2 separate regions of the Homo sapiens genome follow, and region 1 is reported to be linked to region 2. The links are microRNA targets in miRTarBase. Many come from high-throughput screens and were not tested one by one. Region 2 holds a microRNA gene; the other region holds the end of a gene's coding sequence.
The links. Region 2 holds the annotated microRNA hsa-miR-6750-5p (CAGGGAACAGCUGGGUGAGCUGCU, at 10,666-10,689, shown strand). A microRNA usually pairs through its seed, bases 2 to 8, with sites in the 3' UTR of a target mRNA and lowers its output. Matches are read on the target gene's strand: a 7mer-m8 pairs with bases 2 to 8, a 7mer-A1 pairs with bases 2 to 7 and ends in A, and an 8mer does both.

Region 1 (7,798 bases), not on the chromosome of region 2:
TGGAAACCCAGAACCAGGAGCAATGGCCGGAGAAAGTCAGCTAGGGAGGAGAGGAGCTGTAAGCAGAAAAGCCAGGCAAAGAGGCTCTTGGGAGACTCAGACAGCGAGGAAGAGCAGAAAGAGGCAGCCAGCAGTGGGGATGACAGTGGGAGAGATAGAGAACCCCCAGTGCAGAGGAAGAGTGAGGACAGGACCCAGCTTAAGGGTGGGAAGAGGTTGAGTGGAAGCAGCGAGGACGAGGAAGACAGTGGGAAGGGGGAACCCACAGCTAAAGGCTCTAGAAAGATGGCCAGACTGGGCAGCACCAGTGGTGAGGAAAGTGACTTGGAGAGGGAGGTAAGTGACAGCGAGGCAGGGGGAGGCCCCCAGGGGGAGAGGAAGAACCGCTCTTCCAAGAAGAGCTCCAGGAAAGGCAGGACACGAAGCTCCTCTTCCTCCTCAGATGGAAGTCCAGAGGCCAAAGGAGGGAAGGTGAGGGTGAGGAGGGGTGGGAGGCCACTATTAGGGAAGAGGGAGACCCTGCCTCAGGCCCAGCAGGCTTGGCCTTCAGCTGCTCTTTCCTTGCTAGGCTGGCTCAGGTCGCCGTGGAGAGGACCACCCGGCTGTGATGAGGCTGAAGCGCTACATTCGGGCCTGTGGTGCCCATCGAAACTACAAGAAGCTGTTGGGCTCCTGTTGCTCACACAAGGAGCGCCTGAGTATCCTCCGGGCAGAACTGGAAGCGCTAGGCATGAAGGGTGAGGCCCGGCGTGCCCTGGGGGCTGCAGGAGAGGGCCTTCCTGCTGGGGAGGAGAGAATCACCAGCTTCTTCTGCCCCAGGTACCCCTTCCCTAGGGAAGTGTCGGGCCCTGAAGGAGCAGAGGGAGGAGGCAGCTGAGGTGGCCTCCTTGGATGTTGCGAACATCATCAGTGGCTCGGGTAAGGGGTTTCCTCTCACTGCCCAGGAGCAGATAGGTGGGGTTGGACCTTCTCAGACATCTGATCTCTCGTTTCCCCTTTCCCCTAGGCCGGCCACGCAGACGTACAGCCTGGAACCCTTTAGGAGAAGCAGCACCCCCAGGGGAGCTGTACCGACGGACCCTGGACTCAGATGAAGAGCGGCCCCGTCCCGCACCCCCAGACTGGTCACATATGCGTGGCATCATCAGCAGTGATGGCGAGAGTAACTGAGCTCTGCCACCCCCAGGAGGGACCCTTGATACATGTACAAAGCATACATAGCACCCCTTGCCCTGTGTCTGTGGAACAGAAGCAGCTTCCTTCAGAGAAGACTGCAGCTCCCAAGGACACAAGCTGTTGGGATGCTACTTCTCAGCTTCACGCTGTCCCTTTAAGGTGTTTATTTTTTAAGACTCAATAAAGGAGTGTTTTTAATCACCTCATCAAATTTGGTCCCCCATTCTCACCTCCTGTATTTTGGGCCAGGAAACTGAGCAGTAGTCACTGCCTCCACCTCCTCCCCTGGCCTGGTTCCCTTTAATTTCCCCCGGGTTCCTGGAAGAAGTCCCTGCCTCCAGACCCTGTCATCCAACAGCCACCAGACCCTTTTGGAGAAGGGTGTGTGGCTCCTGTGCTGCCCGCCTACCCCGTGGCCCCTCTGCTTTTAGCCTAGTCTGATAACCTAATGCCCACTTGGGAGAGGGATAGAATGACTTGAGGGCAGCCAGTGCTTAAGCCTTCTCCCTTATGCAAACAGCCACTTTGTCCATGGGCTGTTAGCCTCAAAGGGGTGGGGAAAAGCCCATACCTCCTGGGCCAGTCCTAGCCCTCTAGGCCTCTGGCTACAGGCCCAGCCTCTGCAGTCACATGAGGTCTCCACTGAACTCTGGCTGCTGAGGCTTGCGGGAAGATTCGTGAGCATGGAGCTGCCTGGGGTCTGTGTGGGAGGCAAACCTAAGAATCTTTGAAGTCAAAGCAAAGAAAACGAATTAGAGGTCAAGGGGTTGAAGACCACCTTTGAGATCCGAGATCTGGTCACACCTAAAGTCATTAAAATCACTGAAATGTTTAGATACACAGCCCAATAAATTCTCTTTATAAAACACAAGCAGTACTATTCAGTGGCCACTGAGCAGTCCTTCACGCACACCAAAGACAGAAGGGTGAGTCCTGAGATCTGTTAGAATAACCAACAGTTTATTAAAAGCTTGCCTGGGGCTCTGTGCCAGCCCCACAGCTGAGAGGGGCTCCCACGACTGCCCCCCAGGCCTGGGAGCAGCCCCTTCCAAGGTCCTTCCCTTGTTTCCCCGCCCCAGCCCTGATCCCAATTAAAAAAAAAAAAAAAAAGATAAAGGACAAGACGGCACAGGACGTCAGACAGTTACGGGAAGAGACCCAGGCATCCTGACCCCAAGACCCCATCCTGATCCTTCCTGCCAGTAAGGTGGCCTCTCATTCTCCCTGCCTCAGGCCCCAGACCTGCTCTGCCCTGTGGCAGGTCTGAGGGCCTCACTGTGAGGGTAGTATAGTTCTCTGAATATAGTATGTCTAGACCCACCCTTCCCCTCCCCCAGGGGACTAGATGAATATTTGACACGCACATCTCCCTCCTTTCCTAGGTGGCGGAGGGAGACCCCTGGCACCATGGTAGGGAGGCGGGGCTCCCAGGCAGCCTTGAGGCACCTATCGCCAAGCTGGCCCTGGGCCACTGGCCAGCCCCAAGAAGCTCATGAGATGAGGAGGTCTGAGGGGAGCTGGAGCCTACATCTTGTCCCCTACCCTTGCAGGGGCCTCCAGCTCAGTGCCCTCCAGGGTCAGGCTCCACCCACCCCTGCCCTGCCCAGCTCATCTGCTCCTCCCCGCTGCACCTCAGGAATAGAAGTGGGAAGAACCATTGAGGATGTGGGAAGCGACACTGGTGCTGCGGCTCAGGGGCCCGGGCACCGCGGCAGCAGGGGGGCCCACATTCTCACTGCCACTGCCCCCCGAGGCTGCCCGCCGCAGGGGCTGGGGGCTGTTTCTTAGCAGCAGCAGGGCTCCGCCACGGGGTGTCCCACTTTGTGTGGGGGGCCCCAGCCAGTTTGGGGGGCCTGGGGGAGCCAGCAGAGACGGCTGACGCCAGGCTGGAGGGGGCATGCCTGGTGGAGGAGGGCCATGGCTCCAGTGTGCCCCAGAACGGGGAACGGGACGGGAGGGCCAGGCTGGGGCAGGGGGTGGAGCAGGATAGCCCTGGGCAGCAGCTTCAGCCGGGATGCCCCCCAGAGCCATGCTGGAGAAGCCCAGCCTCATGCTTTCCGCATCGAAGGCCTCGATCTCACGGGCCTGCCGCTCAAGCAGACTGCGGATTCGCTCGGAGCGTCCTGTCTGCAGGGCCAGCAGCTCCTCTTCCACCTGGGGCATCCGGAACAGAGGTTAGAGTCGGGGGCAGGAGCCCACCCTCCCTCCCCAGTCCTGGAGGCTGGGCCCCTTACCCGCTGCTCCAGCAGTGCCCGCCGCAGCGCGACCCTCTGCTCCAGCTCCCGCAGCTCCCTCTCGTGCTGGCTCTCTGTGCGGATCTTGATCTTGCTCTGGTAAGCGTTGAGCAGCTCCAGCTCCTGTTGAAGCTGCTGCCGAAGGGCCTGGAACTCTGCCTCCTGGGTCTCATCAAGCCGCAGCTGGGGAAGATGAACAACCAGTTGTAGGGATCTCCTCCCCCACCCCCACTATCCTCCCCTGCCCCAGGTAGGCCTGGGCCCTAAGGTTTCAAGAAGCAGCGGTCTCAACATCTATCAGAATGGAAGATGGTCATACCCTGTGGCACAGCAATTACACTGCAGAATCTATCCCCCAGGTATACTTGCACATGTGCTCGAGGTGTTCACGGAAGCGTTGTGATAGCAAAATACTGGAAACAACCTAAATGTCCACCAATAAGGGATGGGTTAAATAAATTATGGTACAGCCATACCATGGAAAATTCTATGCTGTAAAAAAAATGAGACAGGTGTACTGACAGGGGAAGATGTCCAAGAAATATTAAGTGGAAAAAAGAAGTTACAGAAAGTAAATGTAAAGTATGATTCCATCTGTGTTTAAAATTCATATAATTTTTCAAAATGTGCACTGAAAAAACACAAAATACAGTTAATTATTAACAAGTTACCTGGGAGAGGTGGGACTGGGTGAGAGAACAGCCTTGGGTGGGGCGTTTCCACTCTCCACCCTCTCCGCACATTTTAAGTGGCCCATTCCAGTGTTAGGTGTGATCATTTTTTTAGAACAGCAACTTTCAAAATCCTCCAGAAGTCTGAGTAAATGGGCTTGAGGGCCACACTCACTTTAATCTGCACCCTGTTTACCCATTAAACTAACTCAGGCCCAGGAAAAAAATAATAGCCACTCTTTTCCTTGGTGGTTCTTGGGAATAGGCACATGGCTTTGTCAAGACCTTAAGAAAATACTAAGAGAAAGAATAAAACCACTGAGGAGAATATGAAATAAATCATTGTGGAGAACACGAACAGAGGGAGAGTATGTGAGTTTCCCAAGTAAAAAAGCCCCAGCTCTGTGCATGCCCTGCACCGTCCATTTCTCTAAAGCAAAGTACAGAGCCTGGCCTCTAGCGCACTCCCTCCCTGGACCCCAGGCCTCACCGCCTGTGAGCTGAGCATCTCTGAGATGGACTGGTCATACTGCTCCGCCAAGATCGCCAGCTTGCGGGTCTGCTCTTCCTTGAGCCGCTTAAGGAGGCTCTTGTGCTGAGCTTTGGGCGTGGTCTCCAGCAAGTGTGCTCGCAGAGCCTTGTACTGCCGAGTCTGGATCTTACACGTCTCCTGGAACTGCTTCTTGATCTGCAGCTCCTTAGACTATGCAGTGGACGGATCAAGGGGAGATGGGGGCAGCGGGGAAGAGGAGGAGGAAGAGGAGGAAGAGGAAGAGGAGGAACAACCAGGGGAAATGGGGAGAAGAGAGAGAAGAGGAGAGGAGACAGAAGCAGAGACAGGGAGAGGGAGAGAAACAGAAAACATGTTAGACAGAGGGGGTGGGGGGAGCTGTATACAGACAGACAGACATGGAGAGGTGGGATCGTGTTGAGAGAGATCAGGAAGGTCTCGATGGGCAAGAGATGCAGAGAAGACAAGAGGTTCCAAGAGCACGTGCACGGAGTTGGGTGCGATACCCACGAGAAAGAACATCGGAGTTACTGGACAGGGAACTGAGGATCTTGGAAGCTCTGACCAGGCAAAGAGGGAGAGACTGTGACCTAGAGACAGAAGCACGTGAGCAAATATGAGAACGTGCACGAGAACAAGCGAGAAGAACCAGTCACACAAAACACCCATGAAGAAAGCAACACGACTAAGGACAGACACAGGAAGTCCCAGGTCCAGCAGCTCAGGGAGGAAGGCAGGGAAGGAGGAGAAGCACCGAGCTGAGAAATGGGTAAGAAGGGGCTGCCCCATTTTGGGCCGCAGAGGAGAAAGGGGCAAAGGAGGTGGCCAGAAAGGGCCTGACAAGTTCAACCGGCCAGCAGCTACCACCCTGACCAGATCCGCATTCCAGCCCGGCCCCTCACACACTCAGCTCCCACTCCAGGCCCACACTCAATCCTGCTGCCACAGCCTTCATACTCCGCCTGGTTGCCCCCAGCTCAGCACCCCCTACTGTGGAGGGTCTGCAGCCCCGTCCCCCAACCCACTAGGGTAATGCCTGATGCAGGAGAGCAATTTGGTCCCCTGCAGCCATGGTTGGGAGAAAAGGCAAGGGATGAGGAGACCAAGGGCCTGGAAACTAAGACCTCTGGAAGGAACCCGCAAACAGGCGCTCTGTGGGACCAAGAAGTTCGGTGAAGTTCTACAGGGGCCCAGACCCCAGAGCCGGTGGTGGTCATGGTGCAATGAAGCTATGAAGGCAGAGAGCATGAGGCTGGAGGAGTGAGGGGGCTGAGATAACGGAGATGGGGTGAAGAGGTCATGGAGCCGGGCCGAGGGTCAGCCTGGGGGCATACCGGGGAGGCTAGGCGGCAGGACAAAGCAGACAGAGGCAGCCTGGGCCAAAGGCACAGTTCCGCTCAGATATTTTATTTGTGTTTGTCTTTTTCTTTTTTTGGTGGGGGGAAGGGGACAGGTTGGAAGGGAGACAGAAAAACAAAATCAAAGAGGAGAAAAAAAACATGACTCTTCCCACCCTCCACCACCCCTGGCCCCAGGCCTGAGTCAATGAGGGTGAGGATGAGCACACACAGCGGGCGAACAGCAATAACTTAGGGGAGGAGCGCCAGGAGAACACAGAGTGACTGCTGGACTCCACAGCTGAGGAGGCTGCCTGTCTAGAGGTCCGAAGGGCTGGGCCTGGGGTAAGTGAGCAAACTGAGGAAGGTGGGTGAAAAGAGAGGACTAGGGACTGGAGAAACTTCACTGAGTCGTGGGAGATAAAGTGCTCAATGCTCTAGATTTGGGCTGGAAGGGCTGGAGTCAGCTACCTCCAGGGGGGCAGGGCCCGGGACTGGCGGGTGCGTGACCTCCGCCCGGCTAGAGTCCCTGGCAGTGGCTGGCGGGAGGCAGGGGGCCCTAGCTGGCGCTGGCTGCGTGGTAGTAGCCGGGGGATTCGGGTGGGCCGTTCACCCCGAAGCAGGCCCCAGCTGGCCAGTGTGTGGATGGCCCACGGGGGCAAGTGGGATGCTAAACCCTGGCTGGCCCGTGCCAGACGCCAGTTCCAGCCCTTGCACAGGACCCAGACCCTTGCCAACAGAGCTAATGGGTGTTGGGTGGTGCGGGGATTACGCCGCCGGGGCCCAGGGACGGGCAGGCGGCTGCGGAAGCCATCCTTGTTGGTTTTGGGGTACAGTGCAAACAGACCCCGGTCCCCCACAGCCCCACAGCCCTGCAGGGCCCGGAAGGCCATGGGTGACAGGCGCAGCAGAACCCGCAACCAGAGTCGAGATATGCCCCGGCGCACCCGGGGGCCCTGCTGCCGCACCCATCTGCCCCCCGCTGCCATAGCCACCAGAGGTAGAGCTAGGCCTGGCCAAGCTAAGAGCCAGGCAGCTCCAAGGCCCAGGGGAACACCCATGAGGCCTCGGCGCCAGCTCAGGCCCAGGACGGCCCCCAGTGCGGTACCCTGGGCCAGGAGTAGGAAAAGACTGGAGGGCAGGTGCAGGGCTGTACAAAGGAGCAGGTAGGAGGCCCCCAGACCCACCAGCCCCACCTCAAGGGCCAGCAGCGCTGCCTGCAGGCCACCCCCACCCTGGGCTGCCAGCAATGGAAGCAGCAGCAGCAGCAGGAGGGGCAGGAGGCCAGAGGAGGACCCCACTGCAAAGGAGAGGCCGGCCAGGAGGCCATGGGACAGGAGTCCAGGGAGCTGGCTGGCAGGGCAGGGCCTCAGGTGTGTTGGAGGGGGTTCAGGAGGGATGTCGGGGGAAGGACAACCATCTCCAGGATCCCTAGGGGTCCCAATCGGAGCCCCCTCTTCCTCTTCTTCCTCCTCCTCAGGGACGGGAGTCAGTGCTGGGCCCTGGACCCAGCCAAGCTCAAACTCCTCATCCAGAAGACTCTCATCCTCCTTCCCCCACAAGCTCCATGTCCCAGCCTCCTCCTGGCCAACAATGCTCCTCTCCTGGGGTACAAGGGAGGGCACCCTAAGCTCCTCTATCTCCTCAGGCAGACCCCAAACTTCCTCATCAACCAGGCTCCCATGTTTTTGTGGACTGGGACTAGGGGCTCCTGATTCTTCCCCCAGAATCCTCTGCTGCTTGGGCTCCAAAGTGGCCCCTTCCTTTCCCAGAATCCTTCTCTCTCCAACTGCTTCCTCCTCCTCGCCAAGCATTCTTTGGTCCAGGACTGCCTCCTGGCCAGGTGAGCAGGGCTGCTGTTCTATAGGG
Region 2 (16,589 bases):
CGGAGAAGGGAGAGGAACTGGAGCTGTCAGTGGAGAGTCCCTGTGAGCTGCGGGAACCTGAGCCCTCGCCCTTCTCCTCTAAGAGGACCATGTATGAGACAGAGGAGGTGAGACTTGGCCCCACCTCTTCCCAGGACCCCCTCCCGCCCACCGCCCGGGTTCCTGCCGTAGGAGCCACCTGTGTGGCTGTGGGCCAGGGCAGCACGACCACCTGGGGTGGGCATGAGCTGACCCAACACCAGTGAGGATTTCGGCTCTTCCATTCTTTCCAGCCAGTCAGAGAGTCTTTCTGAAACGGCACTGGTGAGGGCAGGCCCCTGGGGAGCATGGGTCCTCGATTGGAAAGATCAGGTCCTGCCCCACCTGACCCGTGGATCAGCACTGTACACTTAGAAAGGCAGTTAAGGGCCAGGCTCTGCCACTTGGTGACTGTGTCATCACCCTGGGGAGTTATCTGACCTTGAAGAGTTACCTATAGATGAGTTTCTTCCCCTGGAAAATGGGCACCATGACCTGTCTTTCTCTCTTTTTTTTTCTTTTTTTTTTGAGATAGAGTTTTGCTGTGTCGCCGAGGCTGGAGTGCAGTGGCATGATCTCGGCTCACCGCAACCTCCGCCTCCCAGGCTCAAGCGATTCTCCTGCCTCAGCCTCCTGAGTAGCCGGGATTACAGGCGCGTGCCACCACGCCCGGCTAATTTTTATATTTTTAGTAGAGACGGGGTTTCATCATGTTGGCCAGACTGGCCTCTAACTCCTGACCTCAAATGATCACCCACCTCAGCCTCCCAAAGTGCTGGGATTATAGGCATGAGCCACCGCACCTGGCCTAATTTTGTATTTTTAGTAGAGACAGGGTTTCACCGTGTTGGCCAGGCTGGTCTCGAACTCCTGACCTCAAGTGATCTGCCCTCCTCACTCTCCCAAAGTGCTAGGATTACAGGCGTGAGCCACCGCGCCCAGCCTAACCATAACCTGTGTCACAGGCCTGTTGTGAGGATGAAAGAAGTTAACATACCTGAAGCCCTTAGAACAGCACAGGTGTGCCATCAGCACTGTATCTGTACGGCTATCATGCATCCCCAGTAGAGAAGGGCTCCTATGAATGAATGAATGATGAACGACAGGAGGGCAGGACTGAGACCAGAGACAGGCCCCAGCCAGCGTCTCTAAGATGACTCTCCTGCTCTTTCCACCTCACCCTGTCCAGATGGTGATCCCTGGAGACCCTGAGGAGATGAGGACGTTCCAGAGCCGGACCCTGGCACTGTCCCGCTGCAGCCTGGAAGTGATCCTGCCCAGTGTCCACATCTTTCTGCCCAGCAAGGAGGTCTACGAGAGCATCTACAACAGGTGGAGACCCGGGGCCAGCAGGGCGGGACTGGACACTGGGTGGGCCTGGCCTCCCTTACCTGCTGTCCACCCGCCTATCTCAGGATCAACAACGACCTGCTCATGTGGGAGCCTGCAGATCTGCTTCCCACCCCCGACCCCGCCGCCCAGCCCTCGGGCTTCCCCGGCCCCTCAGGCTTCTGGCACGACAGCTTTAAGATGTGCAAGTCAGCCTTCAAGCTGGGTATGAGAGGTGCTAACGCTGGGCTAGAGGGAGGACCCCCAGGTCTGGGAAGGGCCAGGCTAGCCCTTCGCGGTCTCCTTCCCAGCCAACTGCTTTGATCTCACCCCAGACTCGGACTCGGATGACGAGGATGCCCACTTCTTCTCAGTGGGGGCATCAGGTGGCCCACAGGCCGCTGCCCCTGAGGCCCCAAGTCTTCACTTGCAGAGCACCTTCTCTACACTGGTGACAGTGCTGAAGGGGCGGATCACAGCCCTCTGTGAGACCAAGGTGAGTGCAGCCCCGGGCAGGCGGGCCCCAAACTTCAGAGCTCCCATTGGCGGCAGAGCAAGACCAGCGCGAGCAGCTCCAGGTCAAGAATGTGGAGAGCAGGAGGCCTGAGTGGGCAGCGCCAGCCCACCCACGCCAGCCTGCCCACCCTGTCACAGCCCATCAGCTCCTTCTGACCCCCTGCTGTATGTAAAGCACCATGCTAGGGGTCGGGATGGGCATGGAGCACCCACTGTTCCCACTCCGAGCGGGCAGACCCGGCAGAGATTATTTTTCTCCTGGCAAAAGAGGCAAGTGCCATCCAGGGCCTCCAGCAGCGTCCATGGTGGAAACTGGAGCTGACCCCCTTAGGCCAGGGCTCCAGGAGCCGCCAACCCCCAGAGGGCTTGAGGGTTGCTGAGTGCAGCTGGGGAAGCCAGGCTGTGTGCTCCTTCTGCAGGATGAGGGTGGGAAGCGGCTGGAGGCTGTGCACGGGGAGCTGGTGCTGGACATGGAGCACGGTACCCTCTTCAGCGTCTCCCAGTACTGTGGCCAGCCAGGACTTGGCTACTTCTGTCTGGAAGCTGAAAAGGCAACACTCTACCACCGAGGTGTGAGGCCTGGGGGCAGGTCACCACTGGGGTCCAGGGTTGGGGGTGGAGGGCTTTCAGGACGGATGTGGGCCCTGGGTGGAGTGGGTAGCCAGTTGGCTTGGCAGGGGGCTCATGAGACCCCTCCCCAGCGGCCGTGGATGACTACCCGCTGCCCAGTCACCTGGACCTTCCCAGTTTCGCTCCCCCGGCTCAGCTGGCCCCAACCATCTACCCATCGGAGGAAGGGGTGACCGAGCGGGGAGCCTCGGGCCGCAAGGGCCAGGGCCGGGGACCCCACATGTTGTCCACTGCTGTGCGCATCCACCTGGACCCCCACAAGAATGTGAAGGTATGGGCTTGCCTACCATCCACCCCTCCTGCTAGCCTGGGCTGCAGCCCCGGTGTGCGGTGGGACCCCAGTGCGCGGTGAGGCCCCAGTGCACGGTGGGGCTGGCCTCCCCACTGCCCTGACTGCGCCCCCACCCTCAGGAGTTCCTGGTGACACTGCGGTTGCACAAAGCCACCTTGCGCCACTACATGGCCCTGCCCGAGCAGAGCTGGCATTCCCAGGTGAGCGTGGGTGGTGGGAAGCCACATGGCCCAGTGACTCTGGACTTCTGTTTTGGGCAAGCAGGTCTCTAGGTGGGAGGAGGCCGGTGGGAGGAACATGGACTGGGCCACAGCTGACCTTGTCCGGAGCTCCTGGGCAAGGGGTGTGGCAGACAGCTAGTGGGCAGAAGGTGAGGTGCCAGGCAGGGGCCAGGACAGGGAGGGGTTAGAGGAGGGAGGACACCACCTGATCCTCACTGCTTCCTCCTGCCCTGGCCTCTGAAGTTGTTGGAGTTCCTAGACGTGCTGGATGACCCTGTGCTGGGCTACCTGCCCCCGACGGTCATCACCATCCTGCACACACACCTGTTCTCCTGCTCTGTGGACTATAGGTACCAGGCTGGGTGGGCCAGGGGCTGGGGACGGGGATGGGCTCTCAGGTGTAAGGAGCCGGCCCCAGCCCGAGTATCACCCCCAGGCCACTCTACCTCCCAGTGCGTGTCCTCATCACCGCGGAGACCTTCACTCTCTCCAGCAACATCATCATGGACACCTCCACCTTCCTGCTCAGGTATGCAGGCCGCCCCACACTGGGCCATCCCACCCTCGCCGGGCCGAAGCTGCCTGCCAGCTGTGTGTCCTCTGGTGCTCTCGGTCTTAATGTACACCCGGGTGATAGTCTCATTCTCAGGAATGTGGATTGTTTCCGCCTTTCTAGAGGGCAGTTGGAGCCTCCTGATGAGACCCTTATAAGCATTTGTGCTCTCTGACCTGTAATCTCATGTCTGAGGGTTGTCCTAGGATATGCGAATAAGAGAGGTGGGATTTAATGCTTATGGAGTATAAGTTAAAACAGCCAAAACGTATCAGTTAAATCACAAGCCTCACAACCTGAGCAAATAAGCATGGCCCACCTAGTAGGTAGAAAACCATGCAGGGATTAAGGTGAAGCTGAAGAATCCCTTCAAAATATAAGAAGATGGAGGGTGCGGTGGCTCACACCTGTAATCCCAGCACTTTGGGAGGCTGAGGCAGGCAGATCACAAGGTCAGGAGTTCGAGACCAGCCTGGCCAATATGGTGAAACCCCGTCTCTACTAAAAATACAAAAATGAGCCGGGGGTGGTGGCAGGCGCCTGTAGTCCCAGCTACTTGGGAGGCTGAGGCAGGAGAATCACTTGAATCTGGGAGGCGGAGGTTACGGTGAGCGAAGATTGCGCCACTGCACTCCAGCCTGGGTGACAGAGCGAGACTCCGTCTCAAATAAATACATAGATAGATAGATAGATAGATAGATAGATAGATAGATAGATAGATAAAAAATATAGAAAGATGCCACAGTACAGTGTTTACTCAAATAACATTGGATACAGGACTGCGTACGTTTTAAAATCAGTTTATGAAGGGGTGTTTATATGTCTCGGCGTGCAGCTGCAGAGAAAGTTTGGAAGGAGATGTGTATGGTGGTTTTCTCAGAATTAGGGATTAGGAATGATGAATGATTTTTATTTTCTTTATTCTAAAATATCTTAAAGGAGTTTTCATTATGTTACCCTTAAAATAAAGACTTTTTTATTTATTTTTTTTTTTTGAGACAGAGTCTCGCTCTGTCAGCAGGCTGGAGTGCAGTGGCGCAATCTCAGCCGACTGCAACCTCTGCCTCCTGGGTTCAAGCGATTCTCCTGCCTCAGCCTCCCAAGTAGCTGGGACAACAGGCACCCACCACCACACCCAGCTAAGTTTTGTATTTTTAGTAGAGACAGGGTTTCACCTTGTTGGTCAGGCTGGTCTCGAACTCCTGACCTCGTGATCCGCCTGCCTTGGCCTCCAAAAGTGCTGGGATTATAGGCATGAGCCACCATGCCCAGCCCTTATTATTATTTCTTTTTGAGATGGAGTCTCACTCTGTCGCCCAGGCTAGAGTGCAGTGGTGTGATCTAGGCTCGCTGCAACCCCTGCCTCCCTAGTTCAAGAGATTCTCCTGCCTCAGCCTTCCAAGTAGCTGGGATTACAGGCACCCGCCACCATGCTCGGCTAATATTTGTATTTTTAGTAGACATGGGGTTTCACCACGTTGGCCAGGCTGGTCTCAAACTCCTGATATCAGGTGATCCGCCTGCCTCAGCCTCTCCAAGTGCTGGGATTACAGGCGTGAGCCACCGCGCCAGCCAAAAATAAGGACTTATTTTAGAAGAACCACAAATGCAGCAGGGAGAAAAATGGACACCCCTTCCCAGGACTGTCATGAGGCCCCATTGAGGTGTCGGAACTGCAGGCACTTTGAGAGCTGCAAGTGCTGCCCGCTTCCCACTGCCTGCTGTCTGGGCCTTCTCCCCATTGTGCAGGCAGGAACGCTGAGGCTGGAGGGGCCTGTCCATACCACCTCCTGTGGGCTTGGGACCCCTCTGCTCGGCTCCCGTGGAGCTGCCCCCTGCAGCGGTGCCCGGGCCCTTCTCAGCCCTGTTCCCCCCCAGGTTCATCCTCGATGACTCCGCCTTGTACCTGTCCGACAAGTGTGAGGTGGAGACCCTGGACCTGCGGCGAGGTGGGCAGGGCCGGGACTGGGCTCCCTCCCCTCTGAGGGACCACCGCCCCGGCCACACCCAGAGCAGCCAGGTGTCTCCCCGCAGCTGCTGGCCGGGTCCTTAGCTCCCACACGTAGCCCGCACAGCAGGGACTACACCTGGATCAACCGGATCCTTCCCCCAGGTGCTGGGGCCGGGGCCGGGTGGAAGGGGGCCACAGGACCTTTCTCTCGCCTCTGCTGCAGATTATGTCTGTGTTTTGGATGTTGACCTCTTGGAACTTGTGATTAAAACCTGGAAAGGGAGCACCGAGGGCAAACTGGTGAGTGAGGCTGTCACTCTGGCTCCTGGAGCCACAGCAGGTGCAGGGGCCAAGGGAGTCTTCAGGGGCTGCTGCTCCCTCACGTGCCTGGGCTCCGGACACAGTTCATGCCTGCCCTTCCTGGGCTGCAGTTAGCGCCCCTCCTGCAAAGGGCCATAGTACAGCCCTGGTGGGGGTGTCCCTTGATGCTGGCTGAATGAATGAATGGGTTTCAGCCCTGCCACCAGAGGACGCGGCAGCCAGGGCACCAGCGAGGCCCTGGGAATCAGCCACCTTTGTAGGTCCCCGGATTCATCTCCTGTAAGATGGAGATAACCTGCCCTGCCTCGCTAGGCATGCAGAGCCCTTCACGGGGAGTGGGGTAGGGTGGGTGGGCACACTCCTGCTTCCTTGGATGGCCCTGGGCCAAGCCCCTTTCACCCTCTGGGTGAACAGTTTGTTCATCTGTTCAGTGGAGTTACTGGGCAGGTCATCCACTCCAGGAGAGACCATCCCTGTTCTGCCTGTGGCAGGATCAGAACTGCGGTGCCCTCCCAGCGAGCGGGTGGGGCCAGCAGGCAGTGGCCCCTGTGTTCACATAGCTGCTCCCCCCACCCCGCCCCTGCAGAGCCAGCCACTATTCGAGCTGCGCTGCTCCAACAATGTGGTACACGTGCACAGCTGTGCCGACTCCTGTGCCCTGCTGGTCAACCTGCTCCAGTACGTAATGAGCACAGGCGATCTGCACCCCCCACCCCGGCCCCCCAGCCCCACGGAGATCGCCGGCCAGAAGGTACAGGTGAGGCCTGGCCACACAGGCTACCAGAGCTCGGCCAGGCCCCTCCCCTGCCATGGCCCTCGGGCCTGGGGTTGGGGGAGCTCTGTCCTGTCTCACTCATTGCTCCTCCCCTGCCTGGCCCAGCTCTCGGAGAGTCCTGCCTCTCTGCCCTCGTGCCCCCCAGTGGAGACGGCCCTCATCAACCAGCGTGACCTGGCCGACGCCCTCCTGGACACCGAGCGCAGCCTACGGGAGCTGGCCCAGCCTTCAGGTGAAGTGGGGGTGCTGTGGGGACAGCAGACACAGTCAGGCACCCACTGTGGGCGCCTCTCCAAACTGGCCTCTCTCCTATAGGTGGCCACCTCCCTCAGGCGTCGCCCATCTCCGTCTACCTATTCCCAGGTGAACGGAGTGGGGCCCCACCCCCTTCACCACCTGTCGGGGGCCCTGCTGGCAGCTTAGGGTCATGCTCAGAGGAGAAGGAAGATGAAAGGGAAGAGGAGGGCGATGGAGACACCCTGGACAGTGATGAGTTCTGCATCCTTGATGCTCCCGGCCTGGGCATCCCGGTGCGTGGTGGGAGGGATGGACCAGTTTGCCGTCCAGGCAGGTGTGTTTGGAGCGGGGACGGAACACTCAGGGGTGGTTGCCTGGCCATCTGGAGCTCCCGTGGTGAGAGAAGCAGGCAGGAGGTGGTTGCCATCACCTCGGGGGTGGTGCTAGGTCTGTGCCACCCTAGGGAGGCAGCCCTGATGCTGGGCTTTGATGGAGTAGGGGGATTTCCAGAGGAAGAGGAGGCCTGGTGTTTTGGGCAGAGGGACTGGGAAATTCAAGGGATGGAGGAAGAGGAGAGGGCAGTTAGCAAGAGGGATGGAGAACCATGTGGCTGCAAGGGCCAGTGGGAATGTCTGAACTCACCCAGGTCTTAGGAGGCAGGGCTGGCAGGAGCCTGGCATTCTCAGGCTCCTCTTGGACAGACCACTCAGGCATAGACTCGGGTGATAGCAACCCAGGAGTGTCATCTTTCATCAAAAACAGGGAGGAGGCCAAGCATGGTAGGTTACGCCTGTAATCCCAGCAATTTGGGAGGTCAAGGTGGGAGAATTGCTTGAGTCCAGCAATGAGAGATTAGCCTGAGCAACATAGTGAGACCCCGTCTCTACAAAAAATAAAAATAAAATTAGCCAGATATGGTGGCACATGTCTGCAGTCCCTGCTACTCAGGAGGCTGAGAATGGAGGATCGCTTGAGCCTAGGAGGCAGAGGTTGCAGTGAACTGTGATTGTGCCACTGCACTCCAGCCTGGGTGACCGAACATGACCCGACCCTGTCTATAAAAAAAAAAAAATGAAAAAGAAGTGAGGCCAGGTTGCTGGGGCTGGGGGCAGCTGGGCTGGATCGAACATCTGTGTCACACGTCTACCTGGCCTCCCTGCAGCCCCGAGATGGGGAGCCTGTGGTGACACAGCTGCATCCCGGCCCCATCGTTGTGAGGGACGGTTACTTCTCACGGCCGATCGGCAGCACGGACTTGCTGCGGGCACCTGCCCATTTCCCAGTGCCCAGCACTCGGGTGGTGCTACGTGAGGTCTCCCTCGTCTGGCACCTCTATGGGGGCCGAGACTTTGGCCCCCACCCCGGCCACAGGTGAGGAGGAGCGGGTGCAGGTGGCAGCTGGTGAAGGTTGGGGCTCAGGCTGGTCCAGGTCTGACTTTCAGCAGCTGGAGACCTTGAGCCCCATCCACCCCAGGTGGGCCTCAGTTTCCTCATCCTTCCTTATCCCGCCTGCCTTCCAGGACTGGGGCTAGCGGGGGTCTCTTGTCCCAGGCTAAAAGGCCCGCTGAGGACGGGGAGGGAATGGGGTTCCTCTGAGTCAGCTTGGCCCCTGTCCCTCTTCCCAGGGCAAGAACTGGCCTCTCAGGTCCCAGGAGCTCCCCTTCCCGCTGCTCTGGCCCCAACCGGCCCCAGAACTCATGGCGCACGCAGGGGGGCAGCGGGCGGCAGCACCATGTCCTCATGGAGATCCAGCTGAGCAAGGTGAGTGGGGTGGCGAGTGCCTACTACACGTGTGTGTCATAGAACAACGGGCCTTGTTCTCGATGTCACGTGTAGCAATGACTAATGCAGAGGAAAACCCCTGCCTTTGTAGTGGAGGAAGCCAGGCAGGGACCAAGATGTATCGAGTGTGTCCGATGGTGAAGAGCGCTCAGGGGAGAGTCTGCAGGGGTGGAGGAGACAGGTGTGCTGGGGAGGGTCTGGAAAGTCCTCTTCTGAAGGCACCATTTGAACAAAGACCTGAACAAGTGGGGATGTGAGCCAGGAAGAGTTTTCAGGCAGAGAGGACAGCGTGAAAGCCGCAAATTGGGGCCAGGCATGGTGGCTTATGCCTGTAATCCCAGCACTTTGGAAGGCCGAAGAGAGCAGATCACCTGAGCTCAGGAGTTTGAGACCAGCCTGGGCAACATGGCGAAACCCCATTTCTACCAAAAAAAAAAAAAAAAAAAATTAACCATTTGCAGTGGTGTGTGCCTATAGTCCCAGCTACTCAGGAGGCTGAGGCAGGAGAGTTGTTTGAGCCCAAGAGGCAGAGGTTGCAGTGAGTTGAGATCGCCCTATTGCATTCCAGCCTGGGCAACAGAGTAAGACTCTGTTTCAAAAAAAAAAAAAAATGCTGGAAGCTGGAAGCATCCTGACATTTCCAGGAGCAGCAGAGCCTGTGCATAACCAGCGACCCAGAATGTTTCTTTTGAGTCTTACAAGAGACGAACCCCTCAGGGCTTTTGAGGAGAGGCCTCTGTGGGGTGGGGCTCTGCAGCAATCAGGGAGGGCTAGTGAGCAGGTTCAGGAGAGCCTAGATGGGGGCTGGCCACAGGTTCAGCTGCGGATGGGGTGTGTGAGATACAGAGAGTGGTACAGAGGGTTCAAGGTTTGGGCCTGGGAAATTGCCTGGGGCAGGGGGGTCCCACTTGCTCAGAGTGAGCCAGGCCAGTGCTGGGCTTCCCAAGGAGCCGCTAGAGGCAAAGGGCAGAGGGGCCTCAGGCTGCTCGGGTTGGTGGGCTGTGCTGCAAGAACCTGCGGGAGATGAGTGTCAGAGCAGGGGGCCAGGGGCCTCTCTGAGACCTGATGGCCAGCCAGCGGGTGTGCAGGAAGAGGGGGAAGGAAGGCTCTCCACGGAGAGGGGCTACGAGAGCAAAGTCCTGAAGGCAAAACAGGCCTGGACTCCTTGAGGGGCAGAGACCAGTGCAGCTGGCATGGGAAGCAAGAGCAGGGTCAGGTCTGGAGGGAGAGGCAGGTCCCTGCTGGGCATAGAATAGAGAAGGGGTAGGGGCCGGGCATGGTGGCTCATGCCTGTAGTCCCAGCACTTTGGGAGGACGAGGCAGGCAGATCACTTGAGGCCAGGAGTTCGAGACCAGCCTGGCCAACGTTGTGAAACCCTGTCTCTACTAAAATTAGCTGGGTGTGGTGGCACATGCCTGCAATCCCAGCTACTGGGGAAGCTGAGGCAGGAGAATCGCTTGAACCCGAGAGGCAGAGGTTGCAGTGAGCCGAGATCACGCCACTGCACTCCAACCTGGGCGACAGAGTGAGACTCTGTCTCAAAAAAAGAATAGAGAAGGGGTCTGGGGCCAGCCCTTCCCTCCCTCTTGGGGCCCTGCTTACCTGGCCAGGCCTCTGTCCACCCCACAGGTAAGCTTCCAGCACGAGGTGTACCCAGCGGAGCCAGCCACAGGCCCTGCGGCCCCCAGCCAGGAGCTGGAGGAGCGACCGCTGTCCCGTCAGGTGTTCATCGTGCAGGAGCTGGAGGTCCGAGACCGGCTCGCCTCCTCCCAGATCAACAAGTTCCTGTACCTACACACGAGTGAGCGGATGCCGCGACGTGCCCACTCTAACATGGTATGAGCGACCTGCACCATCCACCCTGGGGCAGGGCACCAGACCGTTGGGGATACATCTTCACGCATGCATGGATTCACACACATACACGCATTCCCACACAAACACCCAGGTTGTTTGTGAGCCTGGGAGAAGGGCAGAGCTAGGGGCTGTGTTAGCGAAGGGAACAGCGTGTTCAGAGGCAGGGTGGCTGGGTGAGCTGTCAGGGAACAGCTGGGTGAGCTGCTGCCCCAGAGGCCCAGCAGGTGTCCAGAACTCACCCTCTGCTCCCAGCTCACCATCAAAGCGCTGCATGTGGCCCCCACTACCAACCTGGGTGGGCCTGAGTGCTGTCTCCGCGTCTCGCTGATGCCCCTGCGGCTCAATGTGGACCAGGTGAGTGGTCTACGTGAGGGCAGAGCCTAGGGTGACCCCACTGTCTCCAGGCCTCTGAGTCTGATCCACATCTGGACCTCTCCCTTGCAGGATGCCCTCTTCTTCCTCAAGGACTTCTTCACTAGTCTGGTGGCCGGCATCAACCCCGTGGTCCCAGGGGAGACCTCCGCTGAGGGTGAGAGGCTGGGCCAGGGAGGGGAGCGTCTGGGCCTTCTGCCTCCCAGGACAGCACAGGTTCCCAGTCATTCCTGGCCCCATCCCCAGTCTGTGACCTCCCCTCCCCTAGCTCGCCCCGAGACTCGAGCCCAGCCCAGCAGCCCCCTGGAAGGGCAGGCCGAAGGCGTAGAGACCACTGGTTCGCAGGAGGCCCCAGGAGGTGGACACAGCCCCTCCCCTCCTGACCAGCAGCCCATCTACTTCAGGTAGGCTGCTGGACTGCGGGTGGGGGGCCCTGGGCCAGATTGCTGGGGGCCAGGCCAGTGAGCAAAGAACCCCCTCTTCCTGCTCCCCTACCCAGAGAGTTCCGCTTCACGTCTGAGGTCCCCATCTGGCTGGATTACCATGGCAAGCACGTCACGATGGACCAGGTGGTAAGTGGGGCGGTCGGATGGGGTGGCCATGTGGGGTCAGCTGTGGCTGAGTCCCTCTGGGGGCCAGGTCTTGCATCCAGGCACTGTTAGCAGCCAGGGCGCTCTCCAGTGGCTCCCATGGGCTAGCTAGCTCCCTGAGTCCCATTGGGTAAACCTGGACCCCCTCCCTCTCCCAGGGCACTTTTGCTGGCCTCCTCATCGGCCTGGCCCAACTCAACTGCTCCGAGCTGAAGCTAAAGCGGCTCTGTTGCAGGCACGGGTGAGTCCCCAGCACCCCAGCCTCTCTCCAGGGTCCCTGATCTTCCTTCTGTTCTGGTCCTGACTGGTTGTGTGGCCTTGGCCAAGTCATCACCCTTCTCAGGGCCTCAGTTTCTCCTCTGTAAAAAGGACGCAGTTGGCTGGGCATGATGGCTCACACATTCAGGCATTCGAGACCAGCCTGACCAACATGGTGAAACCCCCCCGTCTCTACTAAAAATACAAAAATTAGCCAGGCGTGGTGGCATACACATGTAATCCCAGCTACTCAGGAGGCTGAGGCAGGAGAACTGCTTGAACCTGGGAGGCGGTTGCAGTGAGCCAAGATCGCACCACTTCACTCCAGCCTGGGCAACGGAGCAAGACTCCATCTAAAAAAAAAAAAAAAGGACACAGTCCCTCTGCACATGACTGGGTGGGACCACAGGGAGGGTAGAGTGCCCACAGTACTTGCCACAGGGGTACTGAGTCCTCCTGACCCCACAATCCCTCCATGTGTGGCTCTGCCTCACCTTCTGCCTCCTCACCTCCCTGCCCTGCCAGGCTCCTGGGTGTGGACAAGGTGCTGGGCTATGCCCTCAACGAGTGGCTGCAGGACATCCGCAAGAACCAGCTGCCCGGCCTGCTGGGAGGCGTGGGCCCCATGCACTCGGTTGTCCAGCTCTGTGAGTGTCTAGGTTTGGAAGCCCTCGAAACTGCTTTTACCCTTGGGCAACCTAGAAGCTGCCATTGGGAATAAGAGGAGGAGGTGGGGGCAGGGCAGCCTCGGGTGTCTCTGAGCGCTCCTTCCCCCTAGTCCAAGGGTTCCGGGACCTGCTGTGGCTGCCCATTGAGCAGTACAGGAAGGATGGCCGCCTCATGCGGGGGCTGCAGCGAGGGGCTGCCTCCTTTGGCTCATCCACAGCCTCTGCCGCCCTGGAACTCAGCAACCGGTTGGTACAGGCTATCCAGGTGAGTGGGTGCCCTGTATCTGGGCTGTGCAGGACAGAGCAGCTGGAGCCCTCTGCACCACAGCTCCCTGGTTCTGTCCTCAAAGCTCCTCAGAGTGGGCAGTCTGGGTATGACAGCCCTACTTTATAGAGAAACAGCCACGGAGAGGCTAAGTGACTTGCCTGGGACCTCCAAGCCAGGTCTCCCGAGGCCCACAGGGGCTCCCATGCAGGAGCGGGAGTGCCCCCCAGGCCTTCAGAGCCCACTGTGTCTCCTGCTCATGGCATGTCTTGTAAAGGGGGGTGGAGGACGGCTGTGTTTGCAGACTAAGAATCTGAGGCGCAGAGGCTGCCCTGGTTCATTCAGGCCATACGCTTCGCTAGGCCAGAAGGACCCCAGGGAAGCTGGGGAGCCAGTCTCGTGGGCAGTTGTCAGATGAATTCTGTAGGGGATCGATGGTCCTAGGCGGCTAAGGGGTGAGTGCAGGTGCATGGTGCATTCTGGAACCTGCAAGCTCAGACCCCAACAGGACAGAGGGCAGGGCTCCAGGGGAGGTGGGAGGGATGCATGGGCACCAGGGAGCCCCCGGGAGTGTTCAGTCAGGTGGGAAAGAGTGATGCCAGGTGAGATGCTGGGCAGAGGATCTGGCAGACAGAAGGAAGGATGGGCCTCTGACCATCTGGCAGGGGCGTCTGGGGGGCCAGGCAAGGAGCGGTCAGTCTCAGGCGTGCAGCTGCGGCAGCCATGTGGAACCTGCTGAATGTGGTGGTCAGCAGGAAGAGAGGTTTGGGTTGAGAAGACTTTAGGAAAGTCCCCTGAGGAGTCCCACGTTCCTAGGTTCCCTCAGCAGAGTGGCAGGTGCCTAGGAAGGGGAGGAAGAGTGGGAGGAAGTGGGGAGTGAGGCTGAGCAGGACCCCCTAGGCCAGCACAGTGACAGGCAGGGAGGCTGAGGGCTGGTGGGGTCTCAGACTGTCCTGGGGGCCTGGGGCTGACGTGTGCCCCAGCCAGCTGTCCTCATCCAGTGCTCCCATGTCCCCCAGGCCACAGCTGAGACCGTGTATGACATCCTGTCCCCGGCAGCCCCCGTCTCCCGCTCCCTGCAGGATAAGCGCTCTGCGCGGAGGCTGCGCAGGGGCCAGCAGCCTGCCGACCTGCGGGAGGGTGTGGCCAAGGCCTACGACACAGTGCGAGAGGTGACCAGGCCCCCGCCCTGCCCCAGTCCCCCATGCCCATCTCCTCACACAGACCCCGCCCTGACCTCTGGCTTCCACAGGGCATCTTGGATACAGCTCAGACCATCTGTGACGTGGCATCGCGGGGCCATGAGCAGAAGGGGCTGACGGGCGCCGTGGGGGGCGTGATCCGCCAGCTGCCCCCGACTGTGGTGAAGCCGCTCATCCTGGCCACGGAGGCCACGTCCAGCCTGCTCGGGGGCATGCGCAACCAGATTGTCCCCGACGCCCACAAGGACCACGCCCTCAAGTGGCGCTCGGACAGTGCCCAAGACTGAGCCTGGGGTGCCCGGCACCCAGAGGGTGCTGCCCACCATGCTCCTGAGCCTCCCAAGAGCTGCAGCCCACGGGCCCGGCCCGGCCTGGCCCTTCAGGGGATGGCCACTGTGAAGGACGCCTTCCCAGCCTGCCCGTTGCCAATCTGCTGTGAGAGGGGGGCCTCCCTGCCTTGGGGCCTTAGCCCTGGCTCTGCACTTTTCCTCCGGGGAGAAAGGACACTGCCCCTCCCCCGACCTGGGCCCACACTGCTGCCTTCTCCCAGGACGGAGGCTTTTGGACCCTCGGACCCCATCCCACTCAGCCAAGTGTCTTTCTGTGTCTGGGGGGAGGAGGGGATGATATCCGTGTGGTTCGATGTATTATTTTTAAGCTCCGTGAGTGCGTGGGTCAGTGTCTGCATGAAGTGGAATAAACTGCCCACCGCCAGCCCCCCTCTCAGATCCTCTGTCCCTGTGAACCCTGGCCTCAGCCTTGACCTTGGCCCCGCCCCAGATCCCACCTCTGCACCCAGCACCTCCCATGTCACCACCAGGGGTCGCCATGCCTCCTGGCCTTGCCCAGCAGATCAGGGCACAGGGGGACCCAGAGGCACCCAGCCCTGCACGCCTTCCCCTGGCTCTGGGCTCTGCCTTGCCCCTCCCAGGAGGCTGCCACTCCAGCCCCACTCCTGATGTGGCAGGAGCTACGTGGGGCTGCCAGGGGAGGGAGGGATGGTCCTTGGAGCCCAGCTGACCCTGCCTGGTTGTCACTTGAGGCCACTCGGGGAAGGCTGAGCCTGAGGCATTCTAGATGTTGCTCTCACCATCCCTAGTGGGGGCTTTTGGGGTGGCCCAGGCCTTGGCCCCTTGGTTTCCACTCTGATCTGGGGTCCCAGCTCCAGCACTTGGAGGGGGGAGGGGTGCTGGAGCAGCGCTGCAGCCGGAATCCCAACCCTCACTGCACAAAGCTTTACACAGGACCAGGGAGCGCCCATTGCCCCCCACACATCTTGTTTCTTGTGAGCTGCTCCCATCGCGCTCCTCCCTGCCCTGCTTCCCAGTGGCGCTGCACAGAGGTGGGTGGGTCCATGGGGAAACCAAGGCTCGGGTTGGGAATCAGGGAACCCTCACCTTGCTAGGTTCCGCAGGCCTCTGGGGTTAGCAAAGGTCCCCCAGCCCTGCTCTGTGGCCCCTTCTGAGTGGGGGAGATCTGGGTACTGGGAACAGAGCAGAAGCTTTGTCCCGAGGGACCCTGGGGTCCTGGCTGCCCACGGACAGCTGGGGCAGCAGGCTGGTAAGAGACCAGGAGGGCGAGGCCCTGGAGGAGACAGGGCTGTGGAGACTCGGTGCTGATGCCACCCGGAGAGGCAGATGGGGCCCAGCCTGATGCTTCCTGGACCCGCCCCACCCTGCCCGGGCACAGTCCAGGGCTTCCTGCCCTTCGAACCGCACTTGTGATCAGTATTGACGGTGGTGGGATAATCATTAACCACCACCAGGGGCTGGGTCAACGGCTCAAAAGGCCCTGGGCCCAGGGTGTCCCCACTTCCTCCTTGTGCCCCGAAGGCCAGCCCGGCACTCAGGTAAGAGGCTTCCTGAGTGGTAGGACCCCTGCCGCCCTCCCTGTCCTAGGAGGCTCCTGAACCCAGGCACCTCTCTGAAGGGTGGCCAATCCTGAGGAAGAAAGGGACCTGGACAGCCATGGGGTGGCCGGGACGAGCCCCTTCCTCTCTGTGCCTTGGTTTCCACTGTGGGATAAGGGGGCCTTAGCATCAGCGCTCAGAGCTGTGGAGCCAGGATTCCTGATCGGGCGCTGTCTCTGCCAGGCCAGGGCACTTGGACACCACGCTGCAGGAGGCTGGTCTCGCCCAGGCCTCTGTGGGAAGGGCCGCCAGGCTGAGTGGAGGGCCAGCCACCAGCTACGGTGTCTTCCTTCGCAGGTCTGTCCCCCCAGGCAGAAGGATTCCAGCCCAGGGATCCCCCATCCCACCCTGACTGCATCCTGAGAAGGGGGGACGCCACTTCGGGAAGGTTGTTGGGGCAGCACAGGCCCTGGGGCCCTGCTCTGTGACCTTGGGCGGCCCCCTCTGTCTCTCTAGGCCTGTATGCACCACTGGCAAAGGGGGCAGGGCCCAAGTCTACTCTAAAAGCTCCCCTTTCTCTCCAGAAGCTTTGGAGTCTCCCAAAATGCCTGCTGGGTCTCTGCAGGACTGGCACCTGTCACCGGAACCTGTCTGGGAGGGACGAGAACACGCTTTGCAAGAGGAAGCTCTGCCTCACAGAGCCCTGGGCTCACTCAGGGACCCTGGCCAGCAGCTGCTTCCTCTCCCCACAGCGGAGAGAGACCCAAGGGTCCCAGGGCGGATGCTTCCCACCAGGCCAGCCCAGCGTGCAGGGTGGCCTCGTAAGTCCTGATTGACATATGGACAGTGGTTCAGAGAGGTTACGCTACTTGCTCAAGGTCACCCAGCTCCCAGGCCCCTGC

Region 1: the mRNA of HIRIP3 is a reported target of hsa-miR-6750-5p. Seed matches in the 3' UTR shown: 7mer-m8 at 1,470-1,476.

The regions. Positions count from the first base shown.
Region 1 is chr16:29,986,579-29,994,376 of GRCh38, reverse strand. HIRIP3 (HIRA interacting protein 3) reads left to right here. Exons shown (of 7, transcript NM_003609.5): 4 at 1-471; 5 at 569-737; 6 at 820-918; 7 at 1,007-2,047. The coding sequence ends at 1,170. TAOK2 (TAO kinase 2) reads right to left here. Exons shown (of 16, transcript NM_016151.4): 16 at 5,984-7,798. The coding sequence ends at 6,397. Among named protein-coding and RNA genes, the nearest start is that of HIRIP3, 5.1 kb to the left of the region's middle. RefSeq lists enhancers at 269-769, 770-1,270, 2,958-3,545.
Region 2 is chr11:64,892,509-64,909,097 of GRCh38, reverse strand. MIR6750 (microRNA 6750) reads left to right here and starts at 10,661; the gene lies at 10,661-10,735. ATG2A (autophagy related 2A) reads left to right here. Exons shown (of 41, transcript NM_015104.3): 16 at 1-107; 17 at 1,208-1,350; 18 at 1,434-1,573; 19 at 1,659-1,843; 20 at 2,283-2,433; 21 at 2,565-2,764; 22 at 2,905-2,985; 23 at 3,250-3,356; 24 at 3,443-3,535; 25 at 5,438-5,508; 26 at 5,734-5,810; 27 at 6,418-6,582; 28 at 6,712-6,838; 29 at 6,922-7,136; 12 more. The coding sequence ends at 14,125. It overlaps MIR6749 (microRNA 6749), which reads left to right and starts at 6,643; the gene lies at 6,643-6,711. MIR194-2HG (MIR194-2 host gene) reads left to right here and starts at 15,649. Exons shown (of 3, transcript NR_133640.1): 1 at 15,649-15,687; 2 at 16,272-16,508. RefSeq lists an enhancer at 8,648-8,777.